Regions from separate parts of the Homo sapiens genome. Here region 1 is linked to region 2. Evidence: fine-mapped QTL for protein levels in blood plasma. Region 2 holds a variant in brackets. A gene starts in the other region. All regions are shown on their reverse strands.

Region 1 (5,000 bases), not on the chromosome of region 2:
GCAATCCCCTTACCTGGCTATCCATCTTTGGAAGGACAGTAGACCCTAGGATGATGGTGGCAGAGCCGAGAATCAGGAGGGGGTTTGGGACTCTGGGATCAACCAGTGAATAGGGCTGGATGGCTCACCCAAGCATGGGACATTGAGGACAGGGCTGGACGTGGGAGCTTAGCAGTGAGTCTGGAGCTTGGATGTCCCGAAACCCCAGCTTCCCGTCACCCCCCATCATACCTCCCACCCCCTCCGGGAAGGGAAATTACATTTCCCCATTTTAGCAAGGGGTGGCGAGAGGGAAGAATGAGTGAACACAAAGCTGAAAGTACAAGCAGGACGGAAAGTGAAACCGGGCACAGCCCCCAGTATAAGACCCCCCCTACCCAGGAGATGGCTGACCAAAGAGGCTGGGCCCCGCCATGGGCCAGACGGCAGGCGACCTTGGCTGGCGTGAGTTTGAAGCCAGGGGTGGGGGGCTTGGTTGAGTTTGGGCAGAGAATGGACGAGCTTGGCTGGTGCAGATGGGGGGTCGAGAGCTGAGAGCAGCAACTTGGCCAAGACTGAGGATTCGGCTGGCTGCTGCATGGGAAGGGAGGCTGGCATGACTGGGTGGGGGCCTGGGGCAGTGGGGTGGTGGTCTGACCCAGGGCTGGGCAGAGGATGAGAAGGAGGCCTTGGCTAGTGGGAATGGGGAGGGTTGGACCAGCAATTTGACAAGGACCAGGTCTAGGCAGATAAATGAAGAGTTTGGAGTGAATAAGCAGAAGCCAAACAGCTTGGCTAAGACTGAGAATGGGGCCGGCTGGAGGAAGAGCAGAACGAGGTGCTGGCACAAGTGGAGCACTGGGACCAAGATGTCAGCAGCCTCACTGGGTCAAAGGTCTTTAGTTTGATGTTGGAAAGAGGTCCAATCTGCGGCTGGTGGCTGCAGAACTCAGGGGCTAGAACCAGAGCAGTAGGCAGTGGAGAAGGTAACATGCCACGTAGGGCAGGTAGGGACCAAAGGCTGGAGGATGGAGACAGAGCCTTCAAAGGCCAGAGCCAATGACCCAGGATCAGCTGCAGAGGGTAAGGAGGGGGTCTGGGGTCTCCAGAGGTCAGGTTGGAGATGGCACAGCTCACTTACGGTTGGGCTTGATCCACCAGGGCCTGGGGGCACCCACCCTGTCCCCAACATTGAGCTAGGAAGAACCCCACTCTGCCTTAAGTCTCCAGGATGTCAGAGGGTCCGAGTGGCCCCAAAACCAGGGAGTCTGAATGCCAGAGATCTTACGTTAGGCATCGCCCACCACATCTGCAAGCCCACGAGGGAGGTAGATGTCCCTAGAAGCTCCCCTTCACCTTTATCAGGGGACATTTCGAAGAGCAGAGCCCAGGGGTTAGAGATTGAGAGAGGACAGGGAAGAGGCAGGGAGAGAAGGGAGAGCAGGATGGACTTCGGGCCAGTTTTGGTTTGTGTTTCGAGGAGAATTGTGTAACTCTTGTGCTTGCTAGATTTCCTCTCCCTGAGGGGGAAATTGATGAATGCTGCCCTCTTCCTAGAGCGCCCATCCGCTGCCCCTCTTTCCAGGAAAACACAGGTCAGGAAGCACACTCGGAATTCAGCCATTCTGGGCTGGGCGCAGTGGCTGATGTCTGTAATCCCAGCACTTTGGGAGGCCAAGGCAGGCGGATCACCTGAGGTCAGGAGTTGGAGACCAGCCTGGCCAACACGGCAAAACCCCTCTCTACTAAATATAATAAAAATTAGCCAGGCGTGGTGGCTACTCAGGAGGCTGAGGCAGGAGAATTGCTTTAACCTGGGAGGTGAAGGTTGCAGTGAGTCGAGATCGCGCCACTGCACTGCAGCCTGGGTGACAGAGTGAGAATCTGTCTTAAAAAAAAAAAAGCTCCCATACTGTGGATTCGCCCCAGGCAGGTTACCCTGCTAGGATCCACCTGCCGTGGTGGAAACTGGACAAACCTGTCCTTTTGACTCCCTGGAATAGAGCCTCTGGCATTGCCAGCCCATCCCTGGGGACCTCATGGCCAGTTCAAGCCATCAGAGCCGCTTGGCTGAGCCCAAAGAATCCTTGCCAGAACATGGTGTGCCCACTCCTGGGGCAGATGGCTGCCTCCCTCTGCATTCTCTGGGGAAAACCCATGGGCTCTGCATTTGGAAAAACCTGGAATCCAGTCCTGGCTTCCCACCTTCTGGCTATTTGACCTTGGGCAAGTCAACCTCACTGAGCCTCACCTGCAAATTGGGGAGAACAATAGCACTGAGGCTGCCACACGTGGTTGTGCAGGTTGCTCACTGAAAAAGGCATTTGGCCAAGGGAGTTTATGGGGGTCAAAATCCAGTCTCTGTCCCGGCACAGTGGCTCATGCCTGTGATCCCAGCAATTTGGGAGGCTGAGGCGGGAAGATCTCTTGAGGCCAGGAGTTCAAGACCAGCCTGGGCAACATAGTGAGACCCTGTCTCTACAAAAAAATAGAAACAGTTAGGCACAGTGGTGTGTCCCTGTGATCCCAGCTACTTGGGAGGCTGAGGCGAGAGGATCACTTGAGCCTAGGAGTTCAAGGCTACAGTGAGCTGTGATCACACCACTACACTCCAGGCTGGGTGATAGAACAGAACTCTGTTTCAAAAAAAAAAAAAAAGGATCAGGCTTCTGGTCTTTTTGCAAAAGTGGGCACACCATGCGGAGATGCCATATGGGGGCCGTGCTGGCTGCATCGTGGGGTTTTGTTTTGTTTTGTTTTGTTTTGTTTTTTTGAGACAGAGTCTGGCTCTGTCGCCCAGGCTGGAGCACAGTGGTGTTAGCTCACTGCAGCCTCTGCCTCCCAGGTTCAAGCGATTCTCCTGCCTCAACCTCCTGAGTAGCTGGGATTACAGGCATGCACCACCACGCCCAACTAATTTTTGTATTTTTAGTAGAGACAGGGTTTCGCCATGTTGGCCAGGCTGGTCTTGAACTCCTGGCCTCAGGTGATCCGCCCGCCTCGGTCTCCTAAATTGTTGGGATTACAGGTGTGAGTCACCGCACCCAGCCTCCATTGTGGTTTTGAGGAGGCAGAGGAATGATGCTGGTCAAAGTGCCTGCACCGTGCTCACAGCTAGCACAGGCTCAGAAAAGGCATGTTCCCTTCCTTCTCAAGCTCTCTCCCTGTCTTGCCACCCTCTTCCCATCTCTCCAGGGCTCAGCCTGTTGCTGCTTCCCTTGCTCCTGGTTCAAGCTGGTGTCTGGGGATTCCCAAGGCCCCCAGGGAGGCCCCAGCTGAGCCTGCAGGAGCTGCGGAGGGAGTTCACAGTCAGCCTGCATCTCGCCAGGAAGCTGCTCTCCGAGGTTCGGGGCCAGGCCCACCGCTTTGTAAGTCCCCCTAATGCAGCTGGCGCTGGAGATGGGCAGACCCCCAATCCCTTCTGGCCCCCACTAACAGACCTTGCCCCCCAGGCGGAATCTCACCTGCCAGGAGTGAACCTGTACCTCCTGCCCCTGGGAGAGCAGCTCCCTGATGTTTCCCTGACCTTCCAGGCCTGGCGCCGCCTCTCTGTGAGTGAGGGCTGGTGGAGTGGGGCGGGAAGCTTGTGATAGGCTGGGGCCAGGGTGCAAGATGAGGCTGGAGATTGAGCTGGAGATGCATTGGGGATAGAACCTGGATAAGGCTGAATATGTCATTGGACATAGAGATGAAAGACAGGCATGGTGACTTACACCTATAAACCCAGCACTTTGGGAGGCCCAGGTGGAAGGACTGCTTGAGGCCAGGAGTTCAAGACCAGTCTGGGCAACATAGTGAAACTTTGTCTCTACAAAAAAAAATTTAAGAGTTAGCCAGGCATGGTGGTGTACACCTTTGGTCCCAGCTACTCAGGAGGCTGACATGGGAGGATTGCTTGAGCTCAGGAGTTGGAGGCTGCAGTGAGTTATGATCCTGGACTCCAGGATGGAGAACAGAGGGAAACCCTGTCTCAGAAAAATAAATAAACTGCCAGGCGTGGTGGCTCATGCCTGTAATCCCAGCACGTTGGGAGGCTGAGGAGCACGGATCACCTGAGGTCAAGAGTTCAAGACCAGCCTGGCCAACATGGCGAAACCCCATCTCTACTAAAAAATACAAAAATTAGCTGAGCGCAGTGGCTCACGACTGTAATCCCAGCACTGTGGGAGGCTGATGTGGGTGGATCACCTGAGGTCAGGAGTTCGAGACCAGCCTGACCAACATGAAGAAACCCCACCTCTACTAAAAATACCAAATTAGCCGGGTATGGTGCTGTGCGCCTGTAATCCCAGCTACTCGGGAGGCTGAGGCAGGAGAATTACTTGAACCCAGGAGGTGGAGGTTGCAGTGAGATGAGATCGCGCCACTGCACTCCAGCCTGGGCAACAGAGCGAGACTCCATCTCAAAACAAACCAACAATAAAGATGAAGCTGGAATAAGGAAGTGGGGTTGGGAAGAGGTAAGAGTGGAGCTAGGCATGGAACGCGGCAGGCATGGGACTGGAATGAGGCTGGAGACAGATCACAGCAGCATGGAGGGTGGGTGGAGGTGGCACTGGGGGTGAGAATGCGGATAGTTAGAGATGAGAAGGTGATGATGAGGGTGAACGTTAAGCATGGGATGGAGAAGGGATGGGGATTGCTGGTGGGGAAGGGAATGGAATAGGGTTAGGAATGAGGTTGGAGATGGGATGGAAAGATGGAAAGAGTGAGTCTGGGCACATGGAGGAAGGATGGAGTTGGGGTTAGGAATGGGAATGAGGCTGAAGATGGGATGGAAACACATGGGCAGGAGGTATGATGGGATGGTGGAGGAGGGAAGGGAACAGGGCTGTGGATGGAGAGTGCTTCAGGGACTGAGAGGGGGTGGGTTAGAGAAGATCATTGGCATAGGAGTGAAAGGGAGGCTGGAAAAGGAGATGGGACAAATGTCCCAGACAGTGGAGATGGAAGGAATGGGGACACAGCTGGGCTGAGGTGGGGGAAGAGCTACAGGGATGGACTGGAGGCTGGAGCGTGGA
Region 2 (5,525 bases):
AAACATGGCCAGTAGGTGATCAATAAATACTGGTTGAATAAATAAATGGATGAATAAATGGATCTTCTGAGAGGCCTTTTATCAGGATCTAATTACCTTTTGAGTAAGACCAAAGTTAGACCCAAACCGTGTATAGGTCATAAAGGGTAATAGAAGAGCAGTCCCAATACCACCATTAGGAACACCTCTTGAGAAAGTCATGGGGAGATGTACGTCAAAGAGTGAAAGTACACCAGTTGAGTCTTAGCTGGAGTTCTAAATAATTTTGGGAAGCTTGGGGCCAGAAAACTTTCTATGAACCCACCTGTATTAGTTTCCTGAGGCTGCTGTAACAGATGATCATAAACGTGGTGGCTTTGCCCTCAACGTTCTGGAGAGCAGAAGTCGAAACTCAAGGTGTCAGCAGGGCCACCATCACTCCAGAGCCTCCTCTAGCTTCTGGCGCCTGTTGATGTTCCTTGCCTTGTAGCTGCTGCACTCCAGTCTCTGCCTCCACTGTCACAAGGCCTTCTCCTCTGTGTCTCAATTGCCTCTTCTCTTGTCTCTTTGTCAAATATCCCTCTGCCTTTCTCTTAAAAAAGCACTTGTCATTGGATTTATGGACCACCTGGATAATTTGGGATGATCTCCTCATCTCAAGATCCTTAACTTTATTATCTCTGCAAAGACCCCTTTTCTAAGGAAGGTAACATTCATGGTTTCTGGGGATTAGGACATGGTTAAGATGTAGACATATCTTTTGGTGAGCCACCATTCAACCTATTACACCATCCATATTAAAACTTATTTGATTAGAGCTGGCATCATTATTTACCAATATATATACTTCTCTAGTTTTAGGCCATGTAACCCAAAAGAATGTAGCCTCCACTTTATAAGTCTGTAACAAAAAAAAGTTTAATGTCAGCCATGACTAATTTCGTGTATTTTAAAAATGTATGTAATGTATTTCATCATTTCATTATTTTTTTTCTAGAATCTGTATCTGTATCAAGATGATCTGAAGAACAGCTTCTACCTTTAGGAATGTCTAGTGTTCCAAAATGACTAGCATCTTCCATTTTGCCATTATCTTCATGTTAATACTTCAGATCAGAATACAATTATCTGAAGAAAGTGAATTTTTAGTTGATAGGTCAAAAAACGGTCTCATCCACGTTCCTAAAGACCTATCCCAGAAAACAACAATCTTAAATATATCGCAAAATTATATATCTGAGCTTTGGACTTCTGACATCTTATCACTGTCAAAACTGAGGATTTTGATAATTTCTCATAATAGAATCCAGTATCTTGATATCAGTGTTTTCAAATTCAACCAGGAATTGGAATACTTGGATTTGTCCCACAACAAGTTGGTGAAGATTTCTTGCCACCCTACTGTGAACCTCAAGCACTTGGACCTGTCATTTAATGCATTTGATGCCCTGCCTATATGCAAAGAGTTTGGCAATATGTCTCAACTAAAATTTCTGGGGTTGAGCACCACACACTTAGAAAAATCTAGTGTGCTGCCAATTGCTCATTTGAATATCAGCAAGGTCTTGCTGGTCTTAGGAGAGACTTATGGGGAAAAAGAAGACCCTGAGGGCCTTCAAGACTTTAACACTGAGAGTCTGCACATTGTGTTCCCCACAAACAAAGAATTCCATTTTATTTTGGATGTGTCAGTCAAGACTGTAGCAAATCTGGAACTATCTAATATCAAATGTGTGCTAGAAGATAACAAATGTTCTTACTTCCTAAGTATTCTGGCGAAACTTCAAACAAATCCAAAGTTATCAAATCTTACCTTAAACAACATTGAAACAACTTGGAATTCTTTCATTAGGATCCTCCAGCTGGTTTGGCATACAACTGTATGGTATTTCTCAATTTCAAACGTGAAGCTACAGGGTCAGCTGGACTTCAGAGATTTTGATTATTCTGGCACTTCCTTGAAGGCCTTGTCTATACACCAAGTTGTCAGCGATGTGTTCGGTTTTCCGCAAAGTTATATCTATGAAATCTTTTCGAATATGAACATCAAAAATTTCACAGTGTCTGGTACACGCATGGTCCACATGCTTTGCCCATCCAAAATTAGCCCGTTCCTGCATTTGGATTTTTCCAATAATCTCTTAACAGACACGGTTTTTGAAAATTGTGGGCACCTTACTGAGTTGGAGACACTTATTTTACAAATGAATCAATTAAAAGAACTTTCAAAAATAGCTGAAATGACTACACAGATGAAGTCTCTGCAACAATTGGATATTAGCCAGAATTCTGTAAGCTATGATGAAAAGAAAGGAGACTGTTCTTGGACTAAAAGTTTATTAAGTTTAAATATGTCTTCAAATATACTTACTGACACTATTTTCAGATGTTTACCTCCCAGGATCAAGGTACTTGATCTTCACAGCAATAAAATAAAGAGCATTCCTAAACAAGTCGTAAAACTGGAAGCTTTGCAAGAACTCAATGTTGCTTTCAATTCTTTAACTGACCTTCCTGGATGTGGCAGCTTTAGCAGCCTTTCTGTATTGATCATTGATCACAATTCAGTTTCCCACCCATCGGCTGATTTCTTCCAGAGCTGCCAGAAGATGAGGTCAATAAAAGCAGGGGACAATCCATTCCAATGTACCTGTGAGCTAGGAGAATTTGTCAAAAATATAGACCAAGTATCAAGTGAAGTGTTAGAGGGCTGGCCTGATTCTTATAAGTGTGACTACCCGGAAAGTTATAGAGGAACCCTACTAAAGGACTTTCACATGTCTGAATTATCCTGCAACATAACTCTGCTGATCGTCACCATCGTTGCCACCATGCTGGTGTTGGCTGTGACTGTGACCTCCCTCTGCA[G/T]CTACTTGGATCTGCCCTGGTATCTCAGGATGGTGTGCCAGTGGACCCAGACCCGGCGCAGGGCCAGGAACATACCCTTAGAAGAACTCCAAAGAAATCTCCAGTTTCATGCATTTATTTCATATAGTGGGCACGATTCTTTCTGGGTGAAGAATGAATTATTGCCAAACCTAGAGAAAGAAGGTATGCAGATTTGCCTTCATGAGAGAAACTTTGTTCCTGGCAAGAGCATTGTGGAAAATATCATCACCTGCATTGAGAAGAGTTACAAGTCCATCTTTGTTTTGTCTCCCAACTTTGTCCAGAGTGAATGGTGCCATTATGAACTCTACTTTGCCCATCACAATCTCTTTCATGAAGGATCTAATAGCTTAATCCTGATCTTGCTGGAACCCATTCCGCAGTACTCCATTCCTAGCAGTTATCACAAGCTCAAAAGTCTCATGGCCAGGAGGACTTATTTGGAATGGCCCAAGGAAAAGAGCAAACGTGGCCTTTTTTGGGCTAACTTAAGGGCAGCCATTAATATTAAGCTGACAGAGCAAGCAAAGAAATAGATTACACATCAAGTGAAAAATATTCCTCCTGTTGATATTGCTGCTTTTGGAAGTTCCAACAATGACTTTATTTTGCATCAGCATAGATGTAAACACAATTGTGAGTGTATGATGTAGGTAAAAATATATACCTTCGGGTCGCAGTTCACCATTTATATGTGGTATTAAAAATTAATGAAATGATATAACTTTGATTTAAACAGTTCTGACACATAAGGGATCCACTTGTTTCTTTGCTATAACTGAGTTCTGAATTTATCATGAAGTCAAGGGAAGCACCTGTTTTTCTTCAGTGATGTGTGTTCTAGTGTATCATGGCCAATATTGGAAAATGCCGTGACTTTTGTGAATATAGCTGGGTTTGTATAGCAGATTTCTACAGCTTTTGATGCTTTCCTCATATCCATGGTGCATTCAACTCAACTTATTGATGGCTGCTCGTTGATAAAGCTGGAGACACTATGCCTGAAGGTTCCTCCCCAACCCCCCACCATCATGCCCACACAAAGGGCAGTTCAGAAGTGCTGGAAATTGTCCTTGGAAACAGCCCTCAACCAATGTCAGAAAGAGCTGGTGGATAAATATCCCAACTTTCTCACTCATTTTTTGAGATAAATCAAAAAATGGGGTATACTTTACACTCTCCCTGAGTTCCCCAGTAGGATAAAATTCTGGTTGTCCACAGTAGAAATGGCTTGATTAAGTATTCTCGACTGGCTTCCTTCCCATTTTTTTCTCACTTACTTATTCCTCCATGTGTATTCCATGGGATCACCTCTGTGATAAACTACTTGCCACTGAATATTTGTCTCAGGGGCTGCTTATGAGGGAGCCCAGACCAAGAAAGTGTTCCACCTCAGTCCAAATGAAAATTCTGAGTCTAGTTTTCCATGACTGGAGATCTCGCTGAGATTCTGGTTGTATGAACTAACATGCACAAGAGCCTTTGCTCTTTTGATTAGAAGGAAGAATATAGTTGATATACGGTGCTTCTATATATAGCATCTGTCTCTTTGGGGAACTATTAAAGTAGAGCATGAGCAGATGGGGCAGTGTAAGGAATGGATATATCTGATGCTTTTCATACCCATCAAACATCCTGTCAGTCTACATTTTTACTCCAGCAGCCAGCTCTGGGCAGGTGTAGTCTTGACAAAAACCTTGTCATAACTACACCATGTATCTTTCACTTTATGCCCCATGACTTCACTGATACCACTGCGTGGGATGCTTGTAGAAGCCTGTTCTACCATTCTGATACATGCACAAACCTGGAAGCACAAGGGATAACACTACGGGATGGGAAGCATTATATACATGCTCCTTTCTTCTATTCTTGGGTTAAAAAATGAGGTGTAATTGATACCTTTTCTCAGACAATCCCTAGTGGCACTGAGGTTTACTTACCCACAGGGTAACCAGCTCAGTAACTTGGTTTTGCATTGACTTTCCATTCTTCCTTGGTCACTCTTCTCATTCGGGTCACTCTTGAGTCCTGAGATCGCTGCTCCAAACAAGCGACCTTTCCTTAACTCAAGGAGTCTAGAAAAAATAAATAAAATAAAAAGCAACAAAAACCAAAAAGCCTACAAATGACCAGCCCACAAAGCTCTCATCTCAGTCTCTACTTTTTTGAGTGGGAAGGAACCCAACTAACACATACATATCTATTAGCTTCTTGGCCTAAAGAACTTACAGTCAATCAGAGAACACTAAACATATCCAAATAACTAAAATAAAAATCAATGAAACAAAGCTATAAAATGGAAGTTCAGAGGTTGCTTAAATTGAGTGAAAAAAAATCTTAGAAATGATGTGTCTTTTTTTTTTTTTTTCCATTAGGTCTTGAAGGAAGACTTTAACTTTGGATTTTTCAATGTGTAATGATGAAGAATGGAAAGGCCATTCTAAACAGAAAGATAAAGAGAGCAAAGGCAGGTATACCCAGGCCTATTCTTGGACTGGTATCCCAGTTTGACTGGACCGTGAGGTTCATGAAAAACAACAGTAGGATAGGAGTGTGGAAAGTTATATTAAGACTATATTGTCAAGGATCTTGAAAGTCAAACCACGGAGTTAGAGCTTGAAAATAGAGGAAAGTCATTATTTAAACTTCTTTGA

Which allele goes with the higher level. Alleles are on the strand shown, and positions count from the first base shown. The strength of an association depends on the size of the effect and on how common the allele is.
For the plasma level of the protein whose gene starts at base 391 in region 1, allele T in region 2 goes with a higher level than allele G (moderate association).

What was found. PIP is the posterior inclusion probability: the model's chance that the variant is causal. Protein levels are from antibody-based Olink assays in UK Biobank. Linkage for the fine-mapping came from a reference panel and not from the study's own genotypes, which makes the PIPs less certain.
Region 1: it holds the start of IL27, and the variant in region 2 is fine-mapped to the plasma level of the IL27 protein (UK Biobank, PIP above 0.99).

Annotation. Positions count from the first base shown.
Region 1 is chr16:28,502,225-28,507,224 of GRCh38, reverse strand. IL27 (interleukin 27) reads left to right here and starts at 391. Exons shown (of 5, transcript NM_145659.3): 1 at 391-444; 2 at 3,175-3,347; 3 at 3,432-3,530. The coding sequence starts at 414.
Region 2 is chr4:38,794,350-38,799,874 of GRCh38, reverse strand. It overlaps TLR1 (toll like receptor 1), which reads left to right. Exons shown (of 4, transcript NM_003263.4): 4 at 977-3,620. The coding sequence starts at 1,044. The coding sequence ends at 3,404. Among named protein-coding and RNA genes, the nearest start is that of TLR1, 7.7 kb to the left of the region's middle. The variant G/T (reference allele first, on the strand shown) is at 2,848.